Regions from separate parts of the Homo sapiens genome. Here regions 2, 3 and 4 are each linked to region 1. The links come from fine-mapping of genetic effects on gene expression. A gene starts in region 1. Each other region holds a variant in brackets. All regions are shown on one strand. Distances are between the middles of the regions.

Region 1 (7,553 bases):
AATGGTTCCTTCCCCACCTATTATCCTTGGGAAAAGAAGTGTCATTTTACATTAGAGTCCTCCCAGAACAGCGCCTGCCGCCTTGATGATGACGACGATTGTTAATTCTGAGATGGAGTCTTGATCTATCACCTATGCTGGAGTGCAGTGGCACCATCTTGGCTCACTGCAACCTCTGCCTTCTGGGTTCAAACGATTCTGCTACCTCAGACTCGTGAGTAGCTGACACTACAGGTGTGTGCCACCATGCCTGGGTAATTTTTGTATTTTTAGTAGAGAGGGTGTTTTACCATGTTGGCCAGGATAGTCGTGAACTCCTGATCTCAGGTAAGCCGCCTGCCTTGGCCTCCCAAAGTGCTGGGATTACAGGTATGAGCCACTGCACCTGGCAGATTATTTTTATTTTGAACAACCAAGTTAGAGTTTGAGAAAGAGATGAAGGGCCTCCAGTACTCTCTTTCAATCCACTGATTCCTTCAGTCGTTCACCTGGGGGGTGGGGTTGGGCTAGGGGTTGGTTAGCAAAAAATGAGCCAAAGAAGAAAATGAATTAAAAACATGAAAGAAAAAAAAGCAAACTGCCATTTACGATGACCATTATCTCACACACAGTGGACATTTTAACTCAAAAATACTATAGGCTCACAGGCATAGATTAAACAGAGAAACCTGTTCTTCATGTTCTTATTTTTTTGCTTGCTTCCCACAGATGAGAGAAAAATCCAGCCAGAATTGGCATCTGTCAAGATAGGCTTTTAGGAGCCACGGCTCCCTAGAGTGGTCTCCACACATTCTGATTATATGCAATCTCATTTTGCCATCAAGAGACTTAACCCACTCCCCTATCCATGTAGACTTTGTAATAATAAATTATACATATATATGACTGAACTAATATATTATGTACTTTATATAACACATACTAAAACAAAAGTGTGAAAAAGATTGGTTGAAATAAATACAAGCTGAAGTTCTAAAAAAAAAAAAAAAAAAAAAGTGAGGCAAAGGAATTGCCCCTAGATGTAGTCATTTTTCCTGGGGAATTGGCCCAATGACTTCAAGTGGTTGATGTCATAATGAGTCCTTCCAAGATCTCTTTAAAAAATTGATGTGTTAAGTGATCTGTGGTGATGAGCACAGCTATACACGCCAGTTGGGAGTGCTGAAAGAAATGAATCCACAGATCTTGTGAAGTCACAAACGAGTCCTATGGCTTGGGATACAACATTGACAGTGAGAGTGATATTCCTCAATTAAAAAACGCTATAACAGGCCGGGTGCAGTGGCTCATGCCTGTAATCCCAGCACTTTGGGAGGCCAAGGTGGGTGGATCACTTGAGGTCAGGAGTTTGAGACCAATCTGGCCAACATAGTGAAACCGCGTCTCTAGTAAAAATACAAAAAATTAGCCAAGCATGATGGCATACACCTATAATCCCAGCTACTCAGGAGGCTGAGGCAGGAGAATCGCTTAAACCTGGGAGGTGGAGGTTGCAGTGAGCCGAGATCGTGCCACTGCACTCCAGCCTGGGCAAGAGAGCAAGACTTTGTCTCAAAAAAAAAAAAAAACAAAAAAAAAACAAAAAAAAAAACAAAAAAAACCAAAAACACACACACACAAAAAAAACGCTATAACAGACCAGTGGCACATGCCTGTGATCCCAGTGCTTTGGGAGGTAGAGGCAGGAGGATTGCTTGAGGTCAGGAGTTCAAGAACAGCCTGGGACACATAGTGAGACCTCATGTCGAAAAAAGAGAAAATTAGCCAAGTGTGGTGTGCCTCTATAGTCCCAGCTCTTCAGGAGGCAGAAGCAGGAGGATCGCTTGAGTCCCGGAGTTCGAGGATGTGGTGAGCTATGATGGCACCACTGCACTCCAGCCTGGGTGACAGAGTGAGACCCTGCCTCTTAGAAAACAGAAGCTATAACTCAAGCAACTTGGAAGTGAAATTCAAGTGCCTGACAGCTGTCTAGGTGCCCCTGAAACTGCCTCTAGTCACAACAAAGATACCTCCATCAAAGAGCATAGGAAGGGTTTGAATCAGATAGCTTCATGCAACACACGAACGGAAAAATAAATTTCTTAAAGAACATATTAGCTTCTTCCCATGAGATCAGGAAAACGGGACATCAATTGTCTGGGGTTCTTTGCTCCTGACTCCCTTTGGGGCTGGCACTATGTTGATCACGTTTTACAGATGGGGAAACTGAGGCTGTCGGTTTTTAAGTGGTCTGCCTAAGGTAGCAGTAAGGGTTGGTCTGACTCCAGCGCAGCCTCAACGAGGGCTTCAAATTAGGGCCATGAATTGGCAATTCCTGGCGGGTAATTGTGAAGAGTATATTTATTTTTAATTTTTATTTATTTATTTTTGAGACGGAGTGTCTCTCGGCCACACCCATCCTAGCTCATTGCTGTCTCGAACTCTCGAGCTCAGACGATCCTCCCGTCTAGGCTTCCCAAAGAGCTGGGATGACAGGCGTGAGCCCGGGCGCCCGGCCGGGAGTGTGTTAAGTATACGGCAAACACCTGGACTGCGGCCGGCTCTCCAGGAATGCCATGATATTGGGGAATTCCCTTTGCACCTGGCCAAGTGGCCTCGGGCAGGTAGCCTCCCCTCGGGTTGCCTCAGTTTCTTCTTTGGCACGCAGAGGCGGGGCTCCAGGCCTGGGCCGCTCCATGGCGGGGAGGGCGCGGGGACGCTGCACTCGGGGTGCGCTCCGAGAGGCGGACCCGGCTGGGCGCGCCTGGGGCGGGGCGAGGCGGGGCGAGGCTGGGCGGTGCGGGGGGCGGCCCCCGAGGATCACGTGGCGCGGCGCCGCGGCCGAAGCAGAAGTAGCGAGCGCCGGCGGCGGAGGGCGTGAGCGGCGCTGAGTGACCCGAGTCGGGACGCGGGCTGCGCGCGCGGGACCCCGGAGCCCAAACCCGGGGCAGGCGGGCAGCTGTGCCCGGGCGGCACGGCCAGGTGAGCTGCCCGGCCGGGAGCGAGGCAGGCAGGGCGCCCAGGGACCTGCGCCCCGCGGGGACCGGCTCCCAGGGCGCTGCGTCCGAGGGGGTCTGCGTCCTGGCTCAGCCGGAGCGGGCAGGGACGGGGCGCACCCTCGGGGACCCCGGCCCGCCGTGCCCGGGGTCCGTTTGGTGACGGCAGGGATCCTGGCCCAGCCGCTGGCCACTTCCTCACCCCGGGCCGGCGCCACCTCTCCGGTCCGTGCGGTGGGGCGGCCCCAGCTTTGAATGGGGACCGGGAGGAAGGTCAGGGGTCGTGTGGGGGCTGGCGTTCAAAACTCCTCTTTTCGAGCGGCTCTGCGTGGGGTGGCGCCGTCTCTCTTGACGGCCCTTGTGCCCAGAGCTCGCGGACGCTCGGAGCCACACTTCCCTGTCTCACTTCGGTGGTTGCGGGTGGCGGGTGGGAGCGATACCGCGGGAGGCGCAGTCCTTCCCGGAGACTTTTGGAGAGCTTGCAGGACACTCGCGATGCCCGCTCCGCAGCTGTCTGCGTAATTATGCGTGTGTCTGTGCGTGTTGTGTTTTGTTGTGTTTTGGAATCCCAAAGAGGGCATTACCCGCACAGCGCAAGAGTTCAGGTTAAAGACGTGCCCCGTTTGGACGGGGAGCTCCTGGATTCCAGCAGGACGGTGGGGCGGGGCTCTCTTGGTACCCTAATCTTGAACTAGGGTGAGAAACTATGGGGGGCGGGGTGGTAAAGGGGTGACATGGCGCGAGGGAAACAGGTGGCCTTGCCCGTCGGAACTTAATTTGAATTTCAGTTCCATCAGTGGGACCCTGGGCAAGTTGAAGAACCTTTTTGAGTCTGTTTCCCCCTCTGGATACTGGAGCCACCCAATTTTCCAGGGCTGTGTCGAGAATTGGGGCTTATTGCTGTTCCACGAGGTTCGCTGAGAATCGGGGCGCATCCATGGAGAGTCCTTGGGCAGTTCCTGACTCTCTGGTTCAAGGGCATTCTCTGGGGCATGGGCCCTCGTCCTTGACTACAGTTCTGCGGGGAAGTTTTACAGAATTTTGAAGTCTATGCCAGCCTCAAGCAGTTTCTCTTGCAAAGGTGTGTGTGCAGTCACGTGTATACCAGCTCAGGGACAATCGTCATTGTGAGCCTCACTGATGTTTAAGTCACCTAATGATGCAGCTGCCTTCCCCCACCAGCGACTGGAGTATGGGCAGTTCCTCTGGAAGTGGAAAAGCACAGACCCCATGAATAGCCCTTTTGCACTCATTGGGTAGAGTCAATGAAAAGCTGCTGGTGAGAAAACTTTTGAAAACATTTCTTGGTCAGGCACGGTGGCTCACACCTGTAATCCCAGCACTTTGGGAGGCCGAGCTGGGCTGATCACTTGAGGTCAAGCGTTCCAGACCAGCCTCACCAACATGGTGAAACCCCATCTCTACTAAAACTACAAAAATTACCTGGGCGTGGTGGTGGCCGCCTGTAATCCCAGCTACCCAGGAGGCTGAGGCAGGAGAATCACTTGAACCCAGGAGGTGGAGGTTGCAGTGAACCCAGATCATGCCACTGCACTCCAGCCTGGGTGACAAGAGAGACTCCATCTCAAGACAAACAAACAAACAAACAAACACACACAAACACTTCTTAATTTAGAAAACAGCAAGAACACAAAGAGAAAAATTTGCCCGTTACATCATCAGTTAATATAAATAAAGTCAAGTTGTATCCTCTACCCTCTCCCAGCCTCCGATAAATAGTAACCACTCTCCTGGATTTACCAGAAGATCACCTTTATAAAAAGGGAATTGTATTATACTCATACAGTTGCAACTATTGTCTGAAGCTATTTTTTTATTGACCTCACAAATCTTTCCAGATCAAATTGCTTATCTATCATCCTCATTCTTTCTGATGGCTACTGAGCGTTCTTCAGTGCATGTGCACCATTATTTATCCAGGAGGCCCCCCACATTGATGAGCAGTTGTTTTCTGTTTTTTTTTCTTTTTTTGTATTTCTATTGCAACTATTGCTTCCGTGATTTTCTGTCGTACATATTGCATCTTTGTGCATGTCTTTCTTTACATGTACAATTGCAGGATCGAAGCATATGCGTGTTTTGCTTTTTAGTAGCTGCTCACAGGTTGCCCTAAAGGAGCAGGGGTGGAATTTACACTCTCACTTGCAGTGGCTGACACCATTCCTTTGAAAATAGTGTATTCCCTCTAATGCTGCAGGGTGGGTGTAAGGTGCAGCAGTAATGTCCCTTGAACTGTTGGAGGGGCCCTTACCACTCAAGTATTTGCCTGTGCTCCATTTTAACACAATTGTCTTGTGGGATTTTTGGATGAAATCCTGTACTGGCTTACCATGCACAGAGCACTGAAGAGACAAAAACTTCCTTGATTTCTGGTTTTGGGTCCTCGCATCTCATTTCATGTCCTTTCCCCCCCCCCCCCCGCCCGCCCCCGAGACGGAGTCTTGCTCTGTCGCCCAGGCTGGAGTGCAGTGGCGCGATCTCGGCTCACTGCAAGCTCCGCCTCCCGGGTTCACGCCTTTCTCCTGCCTCAGCCTCACGAGTAGCTGGGATTACAGGCATGTGCCACCACACCCGGCTAATTGTTTTGTATTTTTTTTTAGTAGAGACGGGGTTTCATCGTGTTAGCCAGGATGGTCTTGATCTCCTGACCTCATGATCCGCCCACCTCGGCCTCCCAAAGTGCTGGAATTACAGTCATAAGCCACCGTGCCTGGCCCATTTTATGCCTTTCTAAATAAGCTTATGAGATACAAGAACATGAATGAGCTTATGAGATACAAGAAAAACCTTTAGAAGGACATGAAATGTAAAAATGGCAAAAATCAGTTATTCAAACTCAGCCATATTTGTATTTACAAAATAAGTCATTTTATAGAATTACCCATTAAGAATGGGAAACAGGAACAAAAAAGGGATTTCAAGGCTTTTTTTTTTCTTTTTTTGAAAAAACCAAAAAAAGCAGAAGCAAAATGGAAGTTGCTGTGGTGGCTGGTGCTCTCTCCTGGGCTCAAGGTCTTGGAGACCTCCCTGCCATAGTTGATAAAGCGTGGAACGCTGGAGACCTGAGCTGGGTGCTGGCAGGATTTGAATGGTGGACTCCAGGGATCTTTTGGCCGTGAAGATCTGTTTCCAATTGCATCTCATAAGCTCATTCATGTTCTTGTATCTCACAAGCTTATTTAGAAGGGCATTTCGTGAGATACAAGAACCCCAAACCAGAAATCAAGGAAGTTTTTCTCTTCAGTGCTCTGTGCATGTTAAGCCAGTACAGGATTTCATCCAAAATCCCACAAAACGATTCTGTTAAAATGGGGCACAGGCAAATACTTGAGTGGTAAGGGCCCCTCCAACAGTTGAATGGACATTACTGCTGCACCTTACACCCACCCTGCAGCATCAGAGGGGATACAGTGTTTTCAAAGGAACGGTGTCAGCCACTGCAGGTGAGAGTGTAAATTCCACCCCTGCTCCTTTAGGGCAACCTGTGAGCAGCTATTACAAAGCAATTGGTGAGACGCAGCATGGAAGTCTGGTGTTTATGGCTGAGTTGATCCACTGGGCTTCGAAGCTGGAAGTAACTGGGACCCTGGGGAAGGTTAAGTCCAAGGCCCTCCCAGAGTGAGGGCTGGAAAGAACTGAGGAGCCTGGTCCCTTGTCCTGGTTTCTGTCTAATTGAAGGTGTTATAATGGGGCTTGTGTTTCCTACTTATGTTCCAGTGGACTATGGCCTAGAGACCTGGGAGTGGGGAACTCCAGGATGCATGGCTGGGAACAGTCAACATAGTGAAGAGCTCTGTGGTTGGCAGCTGGGTCAAATCCAGTTTCAGCTACTTTTTTAAAATTTTATTATTATATTATTATTATGCTTTAAGTTTTAGGGTACATGTGCACAACGTGCAGGTTTGTTACATATATATACACGTGCCATGTTGGTGTGCTGCACCCATTAACTCGTTTTGCTACTTTCTATCTGTGTGACCTCGGATAAGTCCCTTAACCTCTTTTGAGAGTGGCAAGTACTGGCAAATCAGTTAATATCTGGCCAGATGCTGCCACAGGATTCTGGACTAGGGGCTTGGGACTCAGGTGAGGGTTTTGATCTTTGTGCTGCTGCTGGTCTACATGACTTTGATCAAGTAATGTGACCTCTTGGGATTTCAGTTTTCCGCTGCCGTATTTCCCATTGAGATAAATGAGACGAACCAGACACAACAGGTGCTTGGCACCTGGGGAAGGGCCCAATAAATGGCTGCTTAACAAGGATGAAATGGACCATGGGGGCACCTTGTTCATCCCTTTGTCCTGGCTAATGATCAGGAGGTCATTTTGGGTTTCTCCTGATAAGGTAAGATGCACATTAACTCTCAGCAGGGTTTTTTTTTAGCATACTCTGTTCTGCCTCCTAGCCTTTGCTTAAACTTAAAGCCAGTTCCTCCTGCTTCATCTTTTTTGAAAGATTGAGTTCAGATGCCTGCTTTTTTCCCCTGAAAGCTTTTTCTGAGCCCTTTAAGTGCCTAGCCACACTCCAGATTAAATTTAGGATTCCTTCTTGCTGCT
Region 2 (7,553 bases), 160 kb after region 1:
ATCCCACTCTTGGGAAACCAGCGGCGGATAAACTCTTTGTCACTGCCAGGACCTCTGCCTGTCCCTAAGTGCCCGCATTGTTACACGGTCTGTAGCCACCTCATTGATGGCAGAGGGCAGTCACAAAATCCTTCTAGTTAGTGGGTTTCCAGAGCCTCACCAACTGTATTGTGACTTCCCATTCTGAGATGGCTTGAGGGGTGACAGCTGCAGGCCTGGAGAGTAATTGTCATGCTGTTTTTTGTTTTTTTTTTTTGAGACAGAGTCTCACTCTGTTGCCCAGGCTACTCAACTTCTTTGTTAAATGGAGATAATTCTCCCTGTCAGGGTGTGGATTGACTTAGGTAATATCCCTCAAGTGCTTAGCCTGTGACGGCTAGAGCTAAGCACCCCCCAAACAGTCACCATTATTATCTAAATATTCTCTCAAGGTCCCCCCTTGGCCAATAAAAGTCTGATAGAATTTGGGGAGGCCCAACAGGGTTGCCTGCTTTGGGGTGAAGTGAGAAGCTCATCCTTACATGCAAGGAGTTAGATTTGATGGTGGGTCTTCTGAAGGGAGGTACCTCCTGAGTCCATGGCACATGGCCTGGGCACTGGGTAGTGGTCCCCTTGGACAGAGCCCTGATGGGCAGTCAGAGCTGGGGAGCAGGTGTGCAGGTTTTGAGGGTGCAGGGGATAGAGAGTTATGACGAGGATGCTGGGGTCCACAGAGCCCCCGAGGATTTGAAGAACTAGAATTTGAGACACTCTAACAGTGTGGCTTTAGGGGAGGGGACAGGAGGCAGAGTTAAAGACAGAGGGGTGGTGACAGAGAAGAGCCCCCTTCCATCCTGACCTCACCTATATTTGAGGGCTGTGGCCAGGACTGAGCTGCACACCAAAACCTCGTGGAAACAGCTTTGTCGAGAATTTTCACAGTGAGAGGAAGAAACGAGAGGGGCAGGGTTGTCTTCAGGAAAGGAAAACATTCAACCATATTAAAGATCCGAGTGTGCAAGAAAGCAAAGTGGGGATGGAGGAGGAAAAATGCAGGGCGAGCTGGGAAGATGGGATTTCTCGGGGGCGGGCACTAAAGACAGTGAACTCCAAACAGGAGAACAACATGAAGTACTGGGAGAAGAACCAGTCCATCGCCATCGAGCTCTCTGACCTGGTTGTCTACTGCAAACCAACCAGCAAAACCAAGGACAACTTAGGTAACATCTTTCCCAAGAACATGCCCTATAACTCCAATGAAAACTTAACTTCCTTTAGAGTCTGATATTTTCAGAGGGGGCAGAGAGTGCATTCTCTCATTCTTAACTACTCCCAGTAGATGGCCCCACCTTGGGTTTGTCCTCCGAGTGAGGGAGCTGGTGGCAGAAGCTTTTTTGGTGTATTAGTCCATTTTCATGCTGCTGATAAAGACATACCCAAGACTGAGTAATTTATAAGGAAAAAGAGGTTTAATGGACTCACAGTTCCACGTGGAGGAGGCCTCACAATTATGGCAGCAGAGGAGAGAGAATGAGAAGCAAGTGAAAGGGGAAACCCTTATAAAACCATCAGATCTCGCGAGACTTATTCAGTACCACAACAACGGTACAGGGGAAACCACCCCCATGATTCAATTATCTCCTATCGGGTCCCTCCCATAACACGTGGGAATTATGGGAGCTACAATTCAAGGTGAGATTTGGGTGGGGACACAGCCAAACCATATCACCCACTTAGTGGGTGGATTTAGTTCTTACTGCCATTACCACAAACTTGGTGGCTGAAAACAACATTTATTCTTGCACAGTCCTGGAGGCCAGAGTCTGAAATCAGTATCATGAGGTCAACATCAGGGTGCCAGCAGGGCTGTGCTCCCTCCGGAGGGGAAAGCCATTCCCTTCTTCCAGTTTCTGGGGGCTGCTGGCATTCCTTGGCCTTCTCCTCTTCTGCTTCCCTATTATAAGGACCCTTGTGATGCATTAGGTCCACCTGGATATTCCAGAATAAGCCTCCCATTTCAAGCTCCTTAATCACACCTGCAAAGTCTGTTCTGCCATATAAAGTGACATGCACAGGCTCCAGATATTAGGGCCTGGACATCTTTGGGGGCCATTTAAAAAAAAAAAGACCTTCTACCACATTCTCCAGGTAGCAAGCTTTTTGATGATGCTGTACGTATTTTTTTCTTTGGGTGTTTTGAGCTGCTTCCATATCTTTCATCTTAGAACAGAAGACCAGCCAGACAATACTAGACCCCTCAGTTAACTTACCGGGAGGCCAGTCCCTAGGAACTTCTACCTTCAGGGACTCAGCAGGCTCAGCATGTTGACTGCCGGGCTATCCCACCACAGCTGGATGGGAGAGAAGATGAGGCCTGTCCCCTTCCCTCTCCTCCTGTTCTCCCTTCCCTGCACAGGCACCCACATTGCAACCCTACCTGTGGGCTTTGGCAGGTGATTCTCAGTTTGTTCATCTTGTGTCTGTGGTCTCTCTGGATCTTCCCCTCCCAAGATCTTCTCCTACCCAAAACCATTCCCATTCTCCCTCTTCTATAACTGTACCACTTTTGTGTTTTCTTGTTCAAGGATGGTGATAGTTTAAAAAAAAAAGTAAATTACAGTAATTCTAGCCTAAAAGGTGGTGGGAAAACTAGGCCCCTTTTTAATACTTGGAACCCCCAGAGGGCAAGAGTCCACAGTGATACCAATTGGGACAATATCATCAGAACCCCTTGAATGTCAAAGAGGGAGATTCCTGGTTTCCTTTTATAATCTGAGCATCCAGCCATTGCAGCAAACATTAAGAAAATGCACAGATGAGACACAGAAGTACTGATGACCTTTTTCTCTGTGTGCAGAAAATCCTGACTTCCGAGAAATCCGCTCCTTTGTGGAGACGAAGGCTGACAGCATCATCAGACAGAAGCCCGTCGACCTCCTGAAGTACAATCAAAAGGGCCTGACCCGCGTCTACCCAAAGGGACAAAGAGTTGACTCTTCAAACTACGACCCCTTCCGCCTCTGGCTGTGCGGTTCTCAGATGGTGGCACTCAATTTCCAGACGGCAGGTAAAGGCCGACTGAAGGTAGTCCCGTCCCTGCAAGGTGGCGGTTGCAGTCACTCCAGGCCGAGTCACCTTGGGTCAGCGATACCATGTGGTGTCCAAGAATGAGTGATTTGTCCGAGGGACTGCACGGTTCAGCAGAGTAATGGTTAGTATGAGGTCCAGCAGCTGAATGGAGGGATGAGAGGACCGAAGGCTGCTTGGCTTACGCAGGCTTCGTGATTGTAAGTAAGTGACAGAGGCTGAGTTAGTCTGGCTTAGAAAAAGAAAATGCATTAGTTCATGTAATTAAAGCATCTTTGGAGTTCTCTTCTCCAGGCCTGTTGCTGTGTGAGGGCTTTCTGCTCAGACTTTCTTCCAGAGACATTTACATGCTGGC[A/G]TAACTAACATACACAAACTTCTGGACACAAAGTGATCGCATAAATCACGGGGCTTTGTGCTTTTGTTGTTGTTATTTAAGACCTCTTTCGAGGGATCTATTCATCAGTAGCCTCCTTTACATTCTTTTTATAGCCACATCGGATTCCACAGAATGGAACAATCATTTATTTAATAAGTCCCCGTGGAGGCACATGTAGGTATTCCCCATTATTTGCTGTCATAGACAGCACTGCCTTCTGTACCCTGACGTGAGCGCCATTCCACAGATGTAGGAATATGTCTATGGGACAGAATTCTCAGAAAGGCAGGGTGGGTCAAACAGCGCTTGCATTTTGATCAACTTTGCCCTGAGGAAAACCACTGAAGACGTGCCTGAGCTAAGCCACACTGCCAAACTGCCCTCCATAGAGATCGTGGGCGGGGATGCAAATAGGTGGAGGTTGGAGTACGCTCTTTTGGTATGACTTCGCTGAGTTTTGTTGAACTTTTTGCCGTTTGCACAACTGAGAGGTGAAAACTGATACATCGTCGTCCATTAGAGCTTCTTCTTGTAAGGGACATTAACCAGTTTTTCCCTCATTTAGGGAGCAGTGGCATTTTCTTTTCTGGGAACTATTTGTGCTTCTTACCTGATGTATCTACTGCAGTAGGTATTTATAGCATAGATGTATCAGAACTAAGAGGTTAAAAATTTATATTCACATATTTGTCATTTGAATTAAAATTGCCTATGCAATTTATTGCTACATAGACACTTTTAGCAAGTTTGAATCTTTTCTTTTATGATTCGGGATTTGGTGACATACTTGGAAAGGTGTTCCCCAGTCTGGGAGTTTGCTGTCTAGAAACCCTATATTTTCTTTGAGTGAGATACCTATTTGAACAGCTGCCTCACATTAATTTGGGGAAAAGGTGAAATTCATTCCCCACCTAGAAACTCCTGGCCTAGGGGGCCAGCGTGCTCATGCCTGACTTACAGCAGGCGTTCACTTTCCTTCCCAGATAAGTACATGCAGATGAATCACGCATTGTTTTCTCTCAATGGGCGCACGGGCTACGTTCTGCAGCCTGAGAGCATGAGGACAGAGAAATATGACCCGATGCCACCCGAGTCCCAGAGGAAGATCCTGATGACGCTGACAGTCAAGGTAAAGCCAGCCCTCCCTTCCTGCCAGGGGAGCCAGCCGCCCTCCCTGGGGGCTGGGCCGATGCTGTCTTGAGAGCAGGGAACCCATGTCTAGGGAGGCTGGTTGTCTTGTTTAAACGATCCCCATTCAGGCAGTGTTTGAGGATCTTTCTTTCTTACAGTACACTCCGGGGTCGTTCTGGGAGAAGAGGGAAGAGAGGGGAAACCTCCTCAAACCCACTTCCCCTTGTCCTCTGTGGGGGTGAGGTATGACCCTATCTTTCTGGGGTCCTGGTGAGGTCAGCCTCTGGCCGGAAAGAGAAAGAAAACATGGGAAACAGCCATTTGGTCTTAATGGAGAAGTTTTTTCCCTTACTTTGTCCAATTCCAGGGCTTTTTAAAATTCATCTGACTTTCAGAGAAAGTGTTGTTGCTTTGTAAGAATTTTTGAAAAGTAGAGAAATGAATTGCATTTCTCCTAAGGTTAAGGGCGGGCGGGTGGTAGGGGGAAGAAGCATACGTAAACACAGGCCTTTAAATAAACAGCAGTTATAAAAAGAATGCCACACTGTTCCTCAGCCTTTCCTAGGGGTGTGGAAATCCAGTGATTAAGCTCTGCCTTGATCAGAGGCACCTGCTTGGGCATGGATGTGTGCATTCATGAGCTCAGGTGAGTTTTACCTGTTGAGTCAGGTGGCATATGGGGCCGAGACCCAGGCTGATGCTGAGGAACTGTGGGATCTACCACAGTCCACCTTCATCCACTGCAGAAGGTTGCTCCGGCTTTTCCAGTGAATCTAGGAAAATTAGGGCTGGCATTGAACTCATCCAGTGTCACTCTAGAACCCAGCTGCAATCCACGCTAGGCTGCCTGTTCAGGACCCCAGGGGGGTTCCAATGCTTCCCTTTGGTGTCCCAGGTTCTCGGTGCTCGCCATCTCCCCAAACTTGGACGAAGTATTGCCTGTCCCTTTGTAGAAGTGGAGATCTGTGGAGCCGAGTATGACAACAACAAGTTCAAGACGACGGTTGTGAGTAAGTCAGTCACCTTGGCCCCTCTGCTTTTAAACGTCCGGCCAGTGAATCCTTTGTGGGAGTGCTCTTCGTGGGGGATTTTGCAATGCTCTTTAGTTGTCCCAGGGTTTTCTTTCCTCCCTCTTGCCCACATGGTTCAGCTTGAGGAGGGGATACATACAAAGGGCCACTTTCTGAAATCCTTAGACTTTCCCCAGTGCTGTTTGCCTGCCTGTAACTCAAGTCCGGAATCGTAGGTGAGGCCCTGACACTAGGTTGGTCCTCTCTGTGCAACAGCCCAATCTGATTAATCTCCTGAGTCAAAGGCCAAGAGGCAGAGACACAGAGAGAGGGGGTGAACCTACGTGGCTGACCTGACCCAGAGGATCAGCCTAACCTGGGAGATCTTAGCCCCTAGAGGGCAGGAGGGACAAGAGGAATGCTTGCTCTTCCAGGAAAAGCCAGGAGGGAACCGTGATTGGTGGGCCTTCTAAAGCACAGGATCCTTGCCCCTGGTAAAAAGTAGCCCAATGAACAACTCAGATGCTGACCAAATAAACTGGCATTTATGGAGAGTGGCAGGATTGCTGCTTGCCTGCTCTGTGAGGCTGGGCTCTCCCCTGCCAGCTGTAGAACCCCCTGCTGGTGGATGTGGCTCCCAGGCTCTCCTCCCCTTTTGTCTTTTCCAAAATCCACCTTCCTGCTCTGCAAACAAACACCTCCCCCGTTCCCTTGTCCCTGATCCTGGGGCGGGGAGATGGGAGGTGGTCTCCTTCCTCTGCTCACCAAGGGACCAGCCTGCAACAGCAGCTTCCAGGATTGCTCAAGGTGGGGTGGGGGAGTGAAGATAATTATTCAGATTTTCTTAGATCTTGGCATAGATGCATATTTATTTACATGGTTGCTAAGGGGATTCACAGCTGAAGGATGCGGAGATTGTCTTACCAGAAGGGGGCAGCTCCAATGTGGCCTCTCATGAGCTTTGATCTCCTTCCAGATGATAATGGCCTCAGCCCTATCTGGGCTCCAACACAGGAGAAGGTGACATTTGAAATTTATGACCCAAACCTGGCATTTCTGCGCTTTGTGGTTTATGAAGAAGATATGTTCAGCGATCCCAACTTTCTTGCTCATGCCACTTACCCCATTAAAGCAGTCAAATCAGGTAAGAGGCATTTTAATTAAGATGTTCGATTTGGGCTGGCGTTGTACTTTGGTTTGGCTGCTGGCTTCAAAAAGAATGAAAAATGATTTTTCCTGGTTTGGATGGAATCACTGTAAAACCGATTGGGTGGCTTGGAGAGCAGGTGTACAGCCTGTCGTGTAGCACACAGGTGGGAGGAAGTGGGTGACAGGGGAGGCTATGCCCCTCAAAGTGGGATGTTTACAAGCAAAACTGGATTGTTAGTGGATCCTCAACCTGGCACTGCAGTTTGATTTCATTTTGAAATATTACATGCGGTTTGCTTCTCCCTAGCTAGGGCTAAGTCTGGTTTGATCTCCCCCTCCTGCTCTCTGGCTGGCAGTGTGAGAGGGTGGCAAGGGAGAGACCTTTGGCATCTTGGGGGGGGAGTAACAATCTCGAGGGTCCAACTCCCCAAACCCTTCAGAATTCACCTTCTTCTTCTATAAAATTGGGTGGGTTAATTTACTTCTTTGAGTTGTTACAGTTTTCTTCCCTGCTGAAGAAAACACAAGATCCCTTCATGGTATAAGAAGGGTCATTTTGTATTTTTCTGCAACCAAGCCAAGCTGGGTCATACGACCAGCTCTTAAGAACCCTGCTGAATCCCAGATGACTGAGCCCTTCCTACACAGCTGAGATAGACACTTCCAGGTGAGGGGATTTGGGACCCTGCTGCTTCTAGAGCCAGTCATTTACAAAAACAAAAAAAACTGGCTCTCCTTAGCTTCTATATAGTTTCTCTAGTTTACTTTCCCACTGGATCTTTCCCACTGGATTTTAGGTATAATATTTGACAAATAGGCCC
Region 3 (7,553 bases), 63 kb after region 1:
AGTACTATTTTATATCTAATACTTATTTTAATATTGATTCACTATTTTTAAACTTAATTTTATATAGAAAAGAAACTTGATTTCATAGTTTAGAGGTGCCAGGTATGTATTTTTTCAATATATTTTAAAATATACTACAGTTAAGACATAACAAAGGGTGGGCACCATTTAAATTTAATTACCAGCAGGAGGGTGAAAAACACCAAGTTTAAATGGCACCAAAATGATGAACATTTAGGCTGGGCATGGTGGCTCATGCCTGTAATCCCAACACTTGGGGAAACCAAAATGGGAGGATCACTTGAGGCCAGGGATTTGAGACCAGCCTAGGCAACATAGTGAGACCTTGTCTCTACTAAAAAGAGAAAACTTAGGTAGGTGTGATGGTGCATGCCTGTAGTCCCAGTCACCTGGCTTTGGGAGGCTGAGGCAGGAGGGTCCCTTGAGCCTACGAGTTCAAGGATGCAGTGAGCTGTGATTGTGCCACTGCACTCCAGCCTGGGTGACAGGGCATGACCTTGTCTCCAAAAAAACTTAAAGAATTATTTGATGGCCCATGCTGGGGGTGTTAGTGGTGAGCACATAAAGCTCCTCATTTTCTCATTGTCTCCTGAGTTTGGAAATGATTGAGAAATGAAACATCGGCAATCAACGAAGGGCGATGAGATGGCTGCCTGGAGAGCATGCTTAGAATTGAGCCCTGACAGCTGGCCCCTGAGCTGCCCACCCTGTCATGGCCTGGGTGGATGCCCATAGGTGTCTCAGAGCAGCAGTCCCAGACTTTTTTGGCACCAGGGGCCGGTTTTGTGGAAGATAACTTTTCCATGGGCCAGATTGGCCTGGGGGGATAGTGTGAGGATGATTCAAGGGCATTACATTGATTGTGTACTTCATTTATATTATGATTACATTGTAATATATAATGAAATAATTATACAACTCACCGTAATATAGAATCAGTGGGAGACCTGAGCTTGTTTTCCTGCAACTAGACAGTTCTATCTGGGAGTGATGGGAGACAGTGACAGATCATCAGGCATTAGATTCTCATAAAGAGTGTACAACCTGGGTCCCTCACATGTGCAGTTCTCAATAAGGTTTGTGCTGCCATGAGAATCTAACGCCGCTGATGATCTGACAGGAGGTGGAGCTCAGGCAGTAATGTTCGCTAGACCCCTGCTCACCTCCTGCTGTGCGGCTCGATTCCTAACGGGCCACAGACAGGTGCCAGTTCATGGCCTGGGGATTGGGGACCCCTGTCTTGGAGGCAGCTCCCTTCCGAGTGGCAAGGAACAGGGCAGGGCACGTGGTCCCTTGGGGGTGGATCCAGCTAGAACAAGATGAAGAGGCTGAGTATCCTCAGTTCCTTTTTCCAGGGAGTGGTCCCTTCCTCCCTTGGGGATGGGGAGTCCCAGAGGGGAGAGAAGCACCAGTTTCCCCAGTATCACTTAAAACTCTTATCTATTGAATAGTTCTGCATGAATATGAAGCATTAGAATCACAGACCTAATTATTTGAGCATAATGATCTGGGAAGAATCTCTTCACATGGAAGCAGGACACTGATTTTCGCCTCTGCTGTCAGCGCAGTGGCAACAACTCTGTTGTTTATTATCTTTTTAACAAAGAAGATAAGGGCAGGCCCACCCCCTATCTGCAGGCCAAAAAGTAAACTTTATTTATTTATTTATTTATTTATTTATTTATTTATTTATTTATTTATTGAGATAGAGTCTCACTGAGTCGCCTAGGCTGGAGTGCAGTGGCATGATCTTGGCTCACTTCAACCTCCGTCTCCTGGGCTCAAGCCGTTCTTCTCAGCCTCCTGAGTAGCTGGGATTACAGGCACCCAGGCGCTTACTACCATGCCCAGCTAATTTTTGTATTTTTAGTAGAGACAGCATTTCACTATGTTGGCCAGGCTGGTTTCAAACTCCTGACCTCAAGTGATCTGCCCACTTCGGCCTCCCAAGGTGCTGGGATTACAGGCATGAACCACTGCGCCCGGCTGTAAACTTTACTTTTTGCAAAGTTTTTTTTCAGATATATCTCTATAGGGTGTATGTTCTTTTTCCATTTCATAGATGAGAAAATAGACAGTAAGCCAGAATAGAGGCTTCTTCATACAGCCAGGAGAGAAAGAGCTGGATTTAACTCATGCCTGCTAGATCCTTCTAGAGCTGGGCTCTTTCTGCTCTACCGTGTGTGCCTCGGAAGCCCCTTTTGTCATTACATGTTCTTCTGCTGTGTATCTCACCTATTCCCCCAGCTGCCATGTCAGACGCTGCTACATGTGTGAAGTAACCTAACACCTTTGGTTTTTCTTAAAGCAGGGTCCTTGGCTGAGATCAGTAAGCAACGCTGGGGCTTTTTACTTAAAGTGAAACCACCAGCAGCTGGGAAGCTGGTGTTGCAAGGTGGTACAGAAAACCATTCAGCCTAGTAGCTAAACTCACCTTGGTGGAGCCCTCCTGGGGCCACGTGATTTTTATTTCATGTTATTTCATTTGGTTTGCATGACAACTCAATGATAAGCATCACTGCTTGTACAGCGGAGGAAACAGCAAAGAGAAGGGATGCAACGTGCCTGGTTCCTGTGCACCCCTGGGGAGCATAAGCCAGGATTTGAACCAAGGTCTTTGTACTCCAGAACTCCCTACAAAGGGAGGCTTTCTCCTCTTCTTCCCAGGTGAGCTCCAGTCTGCAGAACTCAGCCAGGATGCATGTGCTCAGAGAAGCCTTTCTTCCCCTTGCTGGGGAGGAGCCCCAGTGTGGACTCTGTTGCACTCCTGATGTGGATGGAGATGTGGATATTCACATATCATATGCCGGCCTGGACAGGGCCTGTCCTCCCTCCCAGACTCGGAGCCGTCTGAGGGCAGGACTGTGTCTGTCTCTGCAGTGTGGCATCCCTAGCGCTCAGCGTGGGGTTCTGTGACTGCCTGGTTGACTGAATAACTGAAAGTCGGAAAAGAGGTTGGGGTATGTGTGGGAAGGTGCCCAAGCCTTCTGTCTGTCTGTTTGCTCGCTTGAATATGTCTTGAGCTTCCAGAGAGAAATTTTTGTTAAGCTCATTGTCAGGTGTGGTGCCCCTTGAGGTCATGTATGGGAATTGGGGAAAAAGCCATGTTCCTGGTGTCAGG[G/T]GTGGGAGGACGTTCCGTGGGTGCAGGGAGCCTGAGAGAGACAGAGAATCAGTAGCGGGAGGAGGAAGGAAATGGGAGCTTGAAGAACAGGGTCATGGCCCGGCCAGCAAAGGGGTCGGTGGTGTAAAGCGGGGAGTGAGAGGAAGCTATGAGACGTACGGAGGGGCCAAAAGTCCGCAAGGCTGTGCCAGAAGGTGATGGGTAGGCAGGGAGGGCTGAGGGAGGGTGGCTGGAGTGGGGTGCCGGCCTTTGAGGCTGACTCTAGGAGACTCAGTGTGTGGGGGTTTGTTTGCAGGGGGTGGGAGTGGAGGGATGGGTGGTGGGGGTGGGGTGGACCTGGGAAGACCCGAGGTGATGCTGGGAAGGGGGTGGGGTTGTGCAAAGATGAAGCCTCATTTCTGTGGCTGGGTTATCTCACTTTCTTCAAGCAGGAAACTCGGCCACTGAGCCCCACCATGCAAGAGTGCATGGCCTGAGGTCTGCTGACCACAGCCTACTTTGAGAATAAAGTGTTGTTTCAGTCACTATGAGCCCTTGGCAAAAATTTGAACCCATGCAGACAAAGCCCTCCTTGACCATCATTTGCCCATCTCCTTCTCACTAGTAGTGCCTGTTGTCAGCAAGTTGGTGGAAATCTTTTGGTACCCTTTCTCACACCTTTACACTCATACGTGCACACTTACAAATAGGCACATTCCTTCTTAGCTGAATCCAGTACATTCCTGAAAACACACTGGAGAGGAACATTTTTGGATTGCAATATATTACATCATATTACACAGAGACAAGCGCTGATGCATTACCAACTGATTGAAACACCCCAGCCAATTTCCTTAGTATCACTTAACAACCTTAAGTACCTAAAATCAGCCTACCAATATTTTTCGCGTGAATACAAAGCATCTACAGCAACAAATGCCCAATTTTTGGGTGCTTTGATGAACCCATTGCTAAGCATGTTTGCAAAAAGTACATAGGATACTATACAGTAATGTTTCTGAATTAGGATATTCTTCTATCCTCCAACTACCTTGTACTGTAATGGAAAAAACAATGAAATGATCTGCTTAAAATACTAAAGATTCATTTAAATTGGACCCTGGTTGGTAGTTTGCTTGTCAGAAGCAAATGCTGGGATGAAAGAAGAACTCAATAGAATGGGCAGGATGCCGGGTTTGATGTGCCGTTGGTTGTGTGTCTAACTGCTTCTCTTCCATTGCAGACAGACACGCCTTTCCTTTCCTTTTCTGTTTCTGTTTCCTTTTCCTTTTTCCTTTTCGTTTTTCTTTTGTTTTCTTTTTCTTTCTTTCTTTTTTTTTTTGAGAAGGCGTCTTGCTCTGTGGCCCAGGCTGGAGTGCAGTGGTGTGACGTCGGCTCACTACAAGCTCTGCCTCCCGGGTTTATGCCATTCTCCTGCCTCAGCCTCCCGAGTAGCTGGGACTACAGGTGCCCGCCACCACACCCGGCTGATTTTTTTTTTTTTTTTTTTTTTTGGTATTTTTAGTAGAGACGAGGTTTCACGTGTTAGCCAGGATGGTCTCTATCTCCTGACCTCGTGATCCACCCGCCTCGGCCTCCCAAAGTGCTGGGATTACAGGCGTGAGCCACCGCGCCCGGGCACCTTTTCATTTTTCTTTTCCTTTCTTTTCTTTCTTCTTTCGGATGGAGTTTCACTCTTGTTGCCCAGGCCGGAGTGCAGTGGTGTGATCTTGGCTCACTGCAACCTCTGCACCCCCACAATGGGTTCAAGTGATTCTCCTGCCTCAGACTTCCTAGTAACTGCGATTACAGGTGCATGCCCCCATGCCCGGCTAATTTTTGTATTTTTGGTAGAGACAGGGTTTTGCCATGGTGGCCAGGCTGGTCTCAAACTCCCAACTTCAAGTGATCTGCTTGCCTAGGCCTCCCAAATCGCTGGGATTACCGGCGTGAGCCACTGTGCCTGGCCCACACCTTCACTGTTTTCATTGGCACCTAGGTGCTCGTGAACCTCGTACAGCAGGTCTATGATCTGGATTGTGCATTTTGCATAAAAAAAGAGTTAATAAGTTATAGTAGACATTCAGATAGTGAGAATTTGCATAGTGATGGACACTTGTATATAATATGTACATGTACACATGGCCATGTATGTGTGTACACACATGGATGCATACATCTAGTCTCCTATTTACACAGGTCATCGAGGAGTTTTTGTCATGTCGGTACATAAGGATCTGCCTCCTTAATGTTCACAGCAAATAAATTGAGACACCATGTTCTTTCTTTTTTTCTGAGACAGGGTCTTGCTCTCTTGCCAGGCTGGTGTGCAGAGTTGTGATTACAGCTCATTGCAGCCTCAAACTCCTGAGCTCAAGCAATTCTCCTCCCTCAACTTCTTGAGTAGCTGAGACTACCAGTGTGCACCAGCACACTTGGCTAACTGCGTTTATTTTTTGTATTTTTTTTTAGAGATGGGGTATTGCTTTGTTGCCCAGGTTGGTCTTGAACTCTCTGGTTTCAAATGATCCTCCTACTTCAACCTCCCAAAGTGCTGGAATTATAGGCATGAGCCATTGTTCCCTGTCCCGTGTTATTTCTTATGCCTTATATGTGTCCAGCTTGATTCAGTTGCTAACAAGTACAGAGAAGCTTCTACATCTTTGTTTTTTTTCCCCTACATTTTTGTTTTGCCAGGTACTATTTTAATTGACAAACACACATGTACAGTCGCACACTCATTTAATCCCCACAAGAGCACTGTGTGGTAAGTATCACTATCACTCCTGTTGTTCACATGAAGAAGCAGAGGCACAGAGAATTGAAGTTACTGTCCAAAGCTATCTGCTATAAGCTGGGGAGCTGGGACTCCAGGTTCCAGAGTCTGTCCACCTCATCAGTAGCGACACTGCTCCTCATGACTTGGATAGCTCCTGGGAACATGAATTTGCAGCCCCTGCACTAGAATCTTGTTCCCAGCCTCGGGTCAGAAAGGTGGCTTGAATGCACTGCGTTGAGCGCAGTGGGCCTGACCGCTCTCTGTGCAGCTCTGCACCCCTGTGGGTAGTGGGATCATCATTCACCAAGATGCCCCTGCCTGATGTAAGATCAAGGGGTGGAGATGTCAACAAAAATGCCCACCGACCCCCTCAGACTTTGCTGAATACCAGATAGAAAACCCTGGAGAGAGCTGCATATTCTTATGTGGCTTCTTAGAGTCACTTGCTTGACTATGAGTCAAAGTTCAAATGCTGGCTCTTGCACTTGTGGCTGGTGACCCTGGCCAAGGTACTTCACTTCTCCACATCTCAGTTTCCTCATTTGTAAAATAGGGGCAGTCATGGTACCTGCCTCATAGTGTTCTTGTGAGGAACGATGAGTTAATACAGAGGATGCTGTTGTGCCCCACTCAGCTCCCATTACCAGGCTTGTGCTCCATTTCCCAGCTGCTAGGAGTGTTGGGTGTCGTGGCTCACAGGTGCCCCTTCTTCAGGGCACTGCTCTCACTAGAAGAAATCTGCATCACCTAGGAGGTTGTAGTGGCTGTAAGCCAAGCCAATGACTGACTGGCAGGGAGGACAAGAGGACTGGCCTCCCTTCCTTCAGGAGGACCTACTTTTCCGGTGTGATTCATGCTCCAGACATCCCCCCGCCACTCCCTATACAGTCAGGGTGAAGCCCATCCCTAAGTGGGACCACAGCCTTGTTTAGCTTTATTCTGCTCGCCATCCCACTCCTGCACTCTCCCAGTAAACACTTGAGCAAGAATTCCTGACTCAGGCTCAACTTCCAGGGAACCAACCTATGATAACATGCAAAACATTAGCACTCTGCCTAACACAGAGTAGGTGCTCTGTAAGAGTTTTGCTATATAGCATTTATTTTTATCCTCAAGGATGAGGCTACTGTATCTGTAAGACCCTTGAGGGCCAGGATCAAGTACATCCAGCAGAACATCGGGCTTATGGCTAATGCTTAAAAAGATCATGAGTAGATAGTCCATGTTCATGGATAGGAAGACTCAATATTTTCAAGATATCAGTTCTTCCTGGCTTCATCTATAGATTCAACACAATCCCAACCAAAATCTAATAGAGATACAAGAAAAGGTTTTTTTCAATTCACATTCAATACAGCACGAAACACTTCACCTCAGAGAAAGGAAAAATCAAGGTGTGTTTTTTTTCTCTTTCTCTTTCCTCTTCCCTCTGTACTCAACACTTTTGACACCAGATGTGTATGGTTTTCCCCCCACGCATCAAGCAAACAATTCTCCATTGGACACCAGTTTGGTGTCCTCTAGTTCAGTTCAATTCTGATACTATCTACTTGGAGCTAGAATCAGATTCCACAGGTTGAGAGCTCAGTCCCTCAAGACTCTGTCCCATTTCAGGTGCCAGTCACAAGCCCAAGTTGTGGCCTATGCTTTTGA
Region 4 (7,553 bases), 150 kb after region 1:
GCCCTGTTTGGCCTCCTTGCTGACATTGCTGTTCCTACTGCAGCCTCTGATGCTTCCCCTTGGAGGCTCCCAGACCCAGTTGGGCAACCACAGTGTTGTCCGTCTGCTTCTCCCAGTTCAGAGGCTCGGCTTTGCCGAAGTCCCTCCACTCGAAGTGGCACAGAGTTGAGGTCTCTTCCAGGCACACTGGCGTTCCCTCACTGGGCTCCTGTCCCTGCCTTGGTCAACATCCTGGTGCGCACTGGGTGGGTGACTAACAACATTTTTGGAGTTGTGGCTGGAGCCCAGGTGACTACTCCAAATCACGGTTTTCCATTCTGTGTGAGATGGCCTCATGCCTTTCTATGCCTCTGACAGGCAGTTCTCTGAATTTCGAAGGCTCTTGTCTTAAGAGACTGTCAGAAGTCCCTTTGGCAAGGGACTGTGGGCAAACCGCCCAGCGGCTGTGGTCAATTCCTCTCTCTGATGGCAGTAGTGCTACCTAGGGGGCCGCCTGGGTGAAACCGGCTTTTTTGCATACTTCCAAACTGGTTCCCTGTAGCTAGGGGACCAAACAATTATTGTCTGAACCAAGATGCTCCTGAGAGTGAAGAGAATGTAAAGTGCTCAGTCCTGGACAGATGGTATATATGATCGCCGTAAATACAGCCAGCCCTTGCCAGAAGTGGGTCTGGAGAAATGGTGCGGGGGGGCGTGAAAAGGGCTTACAACCCGCAGTCCTGTGTCTCTGCTAGGTGAATTGGTAGCATCAGTCCTCACTCTGCTTATTCAGACCAAAAAATTGTTAAGTTCTTCCCACCACCACGGAGCACAGACTTGATTAAGATCCAGAAAGGTCAGCCGGGTGCAGTGACTTGCGCCTGTAATCCCAGCACTTTGGGAGGCCGAGGCGGGTGGCTCACTTGAGGTCAGGAGTTTGAGACCAGCCTGGCCAACCTGGTAAAACCCTGTCTCTACTAAAAATACAAAAATTAGCCAGGCATGGTGGCCCATGCCATAATCCCAGCTACTGGCGGGGCTGAGGCAGGAGAATTGCTTGAACCTGGGAGGCGAAGGTTGCAGTGAGCTGAGATCGTGCCATGCACTCCAGCCTGGGGGACAGAGTGAGACTCTGTCTCAAAAAAAAAAAAAAAAAAATCCAGAAGGATATCATATAGAGGGGAAGACAGATGTATAATTATACGTTAAGTATAAGATGTGGCTGCTTGGATGACTGTGGGGACAGGATGCCAGGGGACCACAGAGGAAGAGTGCTCAGCCTAGGGGGCAGTCAGGGAAGACTCCGTGGGAGAGGAAATGCCCAAGCTGAGTCTTAAATTAGTGGGGGGAAGTTGGGTACCAAGGGCATGGGCCAAGGCATGGAAGCTAGGCAGCATGGCAGGGGCATGATAGGGACGACGGGCCAGCTGGAGTCAACATCATGGAGAGTTAGGAGGTGATGTCTGGGAGTCCTGGGGTCAGACTGTGCTGGGCCGTGGCTGCCATGTTGAAGAGTCTGGGCTGGATTCTGGAGGCCCTGGGGAGCCATCATGTGGTGTGGTCAGAGGTGCATTTTGGAGAGTCCCTGGCTGCGGAAAATAGCTCAAGAGATGGGCAGGTTGAAGGAGGGCGTTTGCATGTCTGGGCACGGCCTTGCCGGGAGGAATCTTAGAGGTGCTCACCGTCTGGTGGGGTCCAGGAACATTCATAGATGGATTATGTCCCGTGTTGTTAGTGTTGTTATAAAGATAGGGAACAATGTTTTAGCTGAATAATAATAAGAGCTAACACTATTGAGTATTTACTGTGTACTAGGTAGGCGCTGTCCCAAGCACTCAGCTTATGTTAATTTAGAGTCCTAATAAAACCCTCTGAGGGAAGCACTCACGTTTATGCATTTTTCAGATGGAGAGTTGGAGGCACAGAAAGCCTCCACCGTCAGTGGTAGAGCTGGAGTTTAATTCCAGCCTGTCTGCCTCCAGAACCACCTTCTCTCTAAATTCACAACCTCCCCGAAATAGGGGTGAACTTTTGTCTTGTATGGTCTCTGACTTCCACGTAAAGCATGGAAACTTTTGACTTGTGATCTTTGATTAAACATTAAGATCATGTGATGGGGGTAAAATCAGCCCCCAGTAACTCATTAGTAATTAAAAAATAAAAAGACAGCAGTTGCCTTTGAGATGCTCCATTGTCACAGATAGTGACACTGGTCACTTGGCCACTTGCTGTCTGTCCCCATCAGAATTGAGCCAGCAGCCGGGTGCAGATGAGCAGTAGTGGGTAATTCATGCCACCTGGTGACAGCGCCCCCATGTCCTCTCTTCTTATCCAGGTGGAAAGGAGACTATGGAACCAGGATCCAGCAGTACTTCCCATCCAACTACGTCGAGGACATCTCAACTGCAGACTTCGAGGAGCTAGAAAAGCAGGTGAGTCCCCCTCTTCGATCCTCTTACAGGAAGAAGGGATCTGCAGGTCCAGTTTTTCAGGGAGCTGTGCCATCTCAGTGGGTGAATTTTTCCATGTGCTGCTTGTGGTCTCTGTGGAGCTCTGGATCAGGGAAGACACAGTGATGATAGGGAAATTGAGATTGAGTTGTTGTGGGTGAGTTGCTGTGACAAGCCGGCCGTGTTTTAATCAGGTTGTGTTGGGCTTGGAAGGATTTCATTATGCAGGAGAATTCCCGCTGGAGTGAAAGTGACCAAATGGGGAATTTGTCCTTTGCTTAAGCAACTTGCAGATGAAACACATTTATATTGGACAGCCAGACATTGAGAACGTGCTTGGGGCGAGTAAGCAAGTGGGCCTAACCAGAGGTGAGATGAGGCCTTCCTGGTGACTTTGCAAACCTGGTGGTTGTTCCCTCGCCGCCTCTTGTTTAGAGAGCAGCCACTTTCAGCGTGCTAGCACTCCACCAAGGATGATATCTTTGTAATGAGGATTTTAAGATCCCGTTAGACCCCCAGGTGTTTATTTTCTAAGGGATGTAGGGCAATCTGGGAAGGCTTCCTGGAGGAAGGAGTATTTGACCCTTAAAAGTCAAGTTAGAGTTCAACAGCAAGAGACTGGCAGAAGAGAGGTGCAAGTGGGAGGTACAGTCTAAGCAAAGGTGTGGCAGTGGGAATGTGGTTGTGTTCCGTGTGCTTGGGCTGAGGCAGAGACTGGAAGCCCTTGCTTCCTCTGTACTGAGTTGCCCTTACCTGTACATCAGCATTTACCTGGTGCAGGGGGTGGGGTTTGGGGTGGTGCAGGCAAGGAGTGGATGCCTGGTTCTGCCACCTCTCCTAAGCCCAGGATATTCTTCATCTCAGCCAGACCCTGGGATGGTTCAAGGGTGCAATGGGAGGCAGAGCTGGAAAGGGTGATGGGGGCTCTGAAAGTCTTAAAAGCCAGGTCATAGAGCATGGGTGTTGCTTCCACAGGACATGGGGAGCCACAGAAGGTTCTTGAGCCGGGCTTTAGTAGGCAAAATAGTCTCATTTTCTAATAAGGTCAGATAAATAGTCTAGGATGTGTTTGGAAACCAGATCTGAGGAAGCATTATGAAACCTGTTCTAGAATTCACAAGGCACGTTTTTACGGATTGGAAAATGAAACTCCGAACCTCCTGGCACCCTCTCCCCGCCAGGTCCCTATCAGCTCCATGCTTCATTATTTAGCTCTCTCCCCATGGACGTATCTGGTAATGAAAATGCATTTTAAACAGTTCCACAGGCAGTATCTCTGCTAAACGGTGTGCTTTGGAAACGGGTTTTCTTTTTATTATTCCCGTTACAACTAACGTGAGTTATGTCTTGTTTCTTCACAGATTATTGAAGACAATCCCTTAGGGTCTCTTTGCAGAGGAATATTGGACCTCAATACCTATAACGTCGGTACGTGCACACATCATCTTAGCCTGGATTTCCACCCCTATCCCCCATGGGCTGACCTCAGCCCCGCCCTACACAGGGAGGTGGCTGACACAGGGTCCTGTCTTGAATGCCAGCTCCTTCCCTGGCTGAAGCTGAGTATTTAGGTCAGGCTGGTCAGTGAGTATGATGCTATGTCTGCTATTAATCTCTACTAAAACTGTAAGTGCTAAAACAAGGTCTCGTACATAAGTGCTAGATGGTGGTTAGCGGATATTATTACCAGCGTCACTCTTATTATTTCAGGATCCATCTGTGTTTCCCATGCGTTGCGAAGGAAAGCTGAGCTGTCAGCCTGGCTGAAATGC[A/C]GCGTGGAGTTGGGAGTCTTGGGTTCTAAACCCAGCTCTGCCTCTCTGTCGCTGTGAGACTACAGGCCTGTCACTTCTCCTCTTTGAACCTCTGCTTCCTGGTTGCTCGGCTGGGGCCCAGGAAACCCAGCCCGCCCACGTTGACCATGCTGCAACGGGATGTGAAGGCGTGGCCCCAAGGCTAGGCTTGTCCAGTGGTGGCCAGGGTCTGATGTGTGCTGGGTTTCCTGGGTCTTGAGCCTGCCTGCTTTGAAGTGGGTGTGGTGCAGCTCCCATGTGAAGGGACTCTGTAGCGGGCCTCCTTGTTCTGGGCAGCCCATGACCCTCCCTGGGCAGGCACGGGCATGCTCCCCTAGGACTCAGGTGACAGCAGCCCCAGGAACTTCCTGCTTCTATTGCCAATGCTCTGCTTTACACATTCATTCATTTATTATTATTTCTTTTCGCGATAGAGTCTCGCTGTGTCACCCAGGCTGGAGTGCAGTGGCGTGATCTTGGCTCACTGCAACCTCTGCCTCCTGGATTCAAGTGATTCTCCTGCCTCAGCCTCCTGAGTAGCCGGGACTACAGGCATGGGCCACCGTGCCTGGCTAATTTTTGTATTTTTAGTAGAGCTAGGGTTTCGCCATGTGGGCCAGGCTGGTCTCAAACTGCTGACCTCAAGTGATCTGCCTGCCTTAGCCTCCCAAAGTGCTGGGATTACAGGCATGTGCCACCATGCCCAGCCTGCTTTCCACATTTATAACCTGCTTCTTTACCTTTACAATGATCCAGCAGGATAGGTAGGAGAGGGATTCTTTGCTCCGATTACCAGATGGGAAAATCAAGGTCCTAAGTGACCGACCACCACATGTGCTGAGGTCCTTTGGGCAGGGGGGTGCAGGATCCCTGCATCCACTTCTGGTGCTCTTTGTATCATCTTCCCCCATCCCTGTATCTGCAGAGCAGAGGCACATGGCTCATTGGTTCTGAGTAGAAATCTTGGAGTCAGGTTTGAACTGAGCCTCAGTTTTACTACTACTAGCTGTATGACTTTCCACATGTGACTTTCTCTTAATGAGCCTCAGTTTTGCCTCCTGCAAAATGGGCCTAGCAAAAGCAGGGTGCCTTTAGTCTCAGCTACTCAGGAGGCTGAGGTGGGTGGATCCCTTGAGCCCCAAGAGTTTGAGACCAGCCTGGATAATGTAGCAAGAGCTCAAAATTAAAAAAATAAAATAAAATAAAGATGCAATACATGTAATCTGCTTAGAATATTGCCTGGTATATAAGAGCTCAGAAATCTTAGCTACTAATATTATTTGGCAGATAAGTTTCCCTGTCATAATCTTTTCTTCTCTGTAAGATCCTTTCTCTGTGTCTGGAGAACCCACGCCACATTTCTCTCCTAGTTTCTGGTGACTCTTTGGTGTTTTTGGCTCATGGCTGCATTCTTCAGTCTCCACATTTGCCTGCACATGGCTTTCTCCCTTGTGTCTGCATCTGTTTTTAAAGCCATTTAGCTGGGTGTGGTGGCTCATTCCTGTAATCCCAGCACTTTGGGAGGCCAAGGTGAGTGGATCGCTTGAGCTCAGGAGTTCGAGACCAGCCCTGGGCAACATGGCGAAACCCCTCTCTACAAAAAATACAAAAATTAGCCAGGCTTTGTGGTGTGCACCTGTGGTCTCAGCTACTAGGGAGGCTGAGGTGGGAGGATCGCATGAACTTGGAAGGTGGAGGCTGCAGGGAGCCAAGATCGCACCACTGCACTTCAGCCTGGGTGACAGAGTGCCACCCTGTCTCAAAAAAAAAAAAAAAAGCCATTTAAATTATTTATTCTTTATATGTAAAAGATTATATGTAACAACATAGAAAATTATGCACAATATGCTAAGTGAAACAGTTCACAAAATTTTATGTATTGTATGTAAACATTTTGTAAAAATGCCAAGTTGCTTAGCTATATTTTAAATATTTTTAAAATGAACATGTATTGTTTTAGTAATTTGTAAAAAATATTTATGATGAGTGTAAAAAGCATTTTCTAATTGGTCAACCAAAAAGATATTCAGTGTTTCTTTTGATCAAGACGAACACATGTCTATAACTAAAGTGGACAAGAGGGTATTTTTTTCAGGTTCTCTCATGCATTTTAATGTTTGTTTTTTTTTCCTGCATCTTAAGTGTCCCTCTCCTTTCTCTTATAAGGATACTCATACTTGTTGGATGTTGGAATTGCCCTAAATCCAGGATAATCTCATATTGAGATCCTTAACCTAAGTACATCTGCAACGACCCTATAAGGTCCCATTCACAGGTACTGGTGACCTGACACATCTTTTCGGAGGACCCTACTGAATCTACTGCATCCCTTGAGTAGTCATCTGTGATGTGTACTTACCCCGATGGAAAGTAGACGTCCCCATCAGTGCTAACCGTGGTCATAGCAGTGGTGGTTGGTCCATGAGAGAAACAGCTCAGGCAGGGTGCAGTCTGGTCTTTGTGGCCCTCTAATAGGCTGATTGGGACATTTCTTATTCTCTTACCCCAAGTGAAAGCCCCTCAGGGAAAAAACCAGAAGTCCTTTGTCTTCATCCTGGAGCCCAAGCAGCAGGGCGATCCTCCGGTGGAGTTTGCCACAGACAGGGTGGAGGAGCTCTTTGAGTGGTTTCAGAGCATCCGAGAGATCACCTGGAAGATTGACACCAAGGTAGGCACCTGCTCACCCGGGTGCAGGTGGGCCTGGCATTCTGAGGGCTTTGGTGCTCAGTTGGGACTGTGGGTGGGTCCAGGCAGCAGGATGAGCAGGCCCAGGTCCTACTCAGAATTCAGGAAGGAGACCAGGTGGATTCAGACAATTGGAGCACCTCTTGTTAGAGAGAGGCAGGGATAGTGGAGGTGCCCTGGGAAGGTGGGTCTGGTTGTCTGGTTCGAACCTTCAGAAGGCTGAGTGCCTGCAGCAATGCTCATTGATGATGTCTTTGCGGCCCTACATATCTTACCAAGGAAGTTACTGCCTTCCTCATTTTGAATATTTTCTTTCTAAGTATCATATAAAGCAGTCTGGATCCTCCTGACAGAAAACGTTCACTGAGCTCACCTGCCTGGAGCTGGAATGGGCTCTGGGAACATAGCAAATCAGCGAGACCCGGTTCTTTCCGGTGGAGGAACTTCCCCTCTAGATGGGAGTGACCTTTTCAGGGCTGTCCTACCTGAAGTACTAGTCTCTGGCTGGAAGTGTTTTGGGAAGGTGTGAGCTTCTGGATAAGAATAGGAGGTCTGGAATTGGGCAGACTGGAGTTTGCATCCTGGCAGGGCTGGACCCTGGGCAAGTAACCACACTTCTCTGGGCCTCAGTTTCCTTGTCTGCAAAATG

What was found.
Region 2: its variant is fine-mapped to the expression of PLCG2 in whole blood (TOPMed, PIP above 0.99).
Region 3: its variant is fine-mapped to the expression of PLCG2 in whole blood (TOPMed, PIP above 0.99). The same link has a PIP of 0.9 or more in putamen.
Region 4: its variant is fine-mapped to the expression of PLCG2 in whole blood (TOPMed, PIP above 0.99).

Annotation. Positions count from the first base shown.
Region 1 is chr16:81,776,464-81,784,016 of GRCh38, forward strand. It overlaps PLCG2 (phospholipase C gamma 2), which reads left to right and starts at 2,828. Exons shown (of 33, transcript NM_002661.5): 1 at 2,828-2,961. It overlaps LOC105369213 (a long non-coding RNA gene), which reads left to right. Exons shown (of 4, transcript NR_189584.1): 4 at 709-890. RefSeq lists silencers at 2,321-2,615, 2,644-2,913, 2,944-3,043, 3,054-3,133.
Region 2 is chr16:81,933,333-81,940,885 of GRCh38, forward strand. PLCG2 (phospholipase C gamma 2) reads left to right here. Exons shown (of 33, transcript NM_002661.5): 26 at 1,097-1,199; 27 at 2,837-3,046; 28 at 4,426-4,571; 29 at 5,469-5,583; 30 at 6,560-6,727. Among named protein-coding and RNA genes, the nearest start is that of SDR42E1, 74 kb to the right of the region's middle. The variant A/G (reference allele first, on the strand shown) is at 3,422.
Region 3 is chr16:81,839,532-81,847,084 of GRCh38, forward strand. The region is part of intron 2 of PLCG2 (phospholipase C gamma 2); the gene reads left to right. Among named protein-coding and RNA genes, the nearest start is that of PLCG2, 64 kb to the left of the region's middle. RefSeq lists an enhancer at 3,201-3,260. The variant G/T (reference allele first, on the strand shown) is at 3,143.
Region 4 is chr16:81,924,768-81,932,320 of GRCh38, forward strand. PLCG2 (phospholipase C gamma 2) reads left to right here. Exons shown (of 33, transcript NM_002661.5): 23 at 2,315-2,411; 24 at 3,791-3,857; 25 at 6,730-6,887. Among named protein-coding and RNA genes, the nearest start is that of SDR42E1, 83 kb to the right of the region's middle. The variant A/C (reference allele first, on the strand shown) is at 4,202.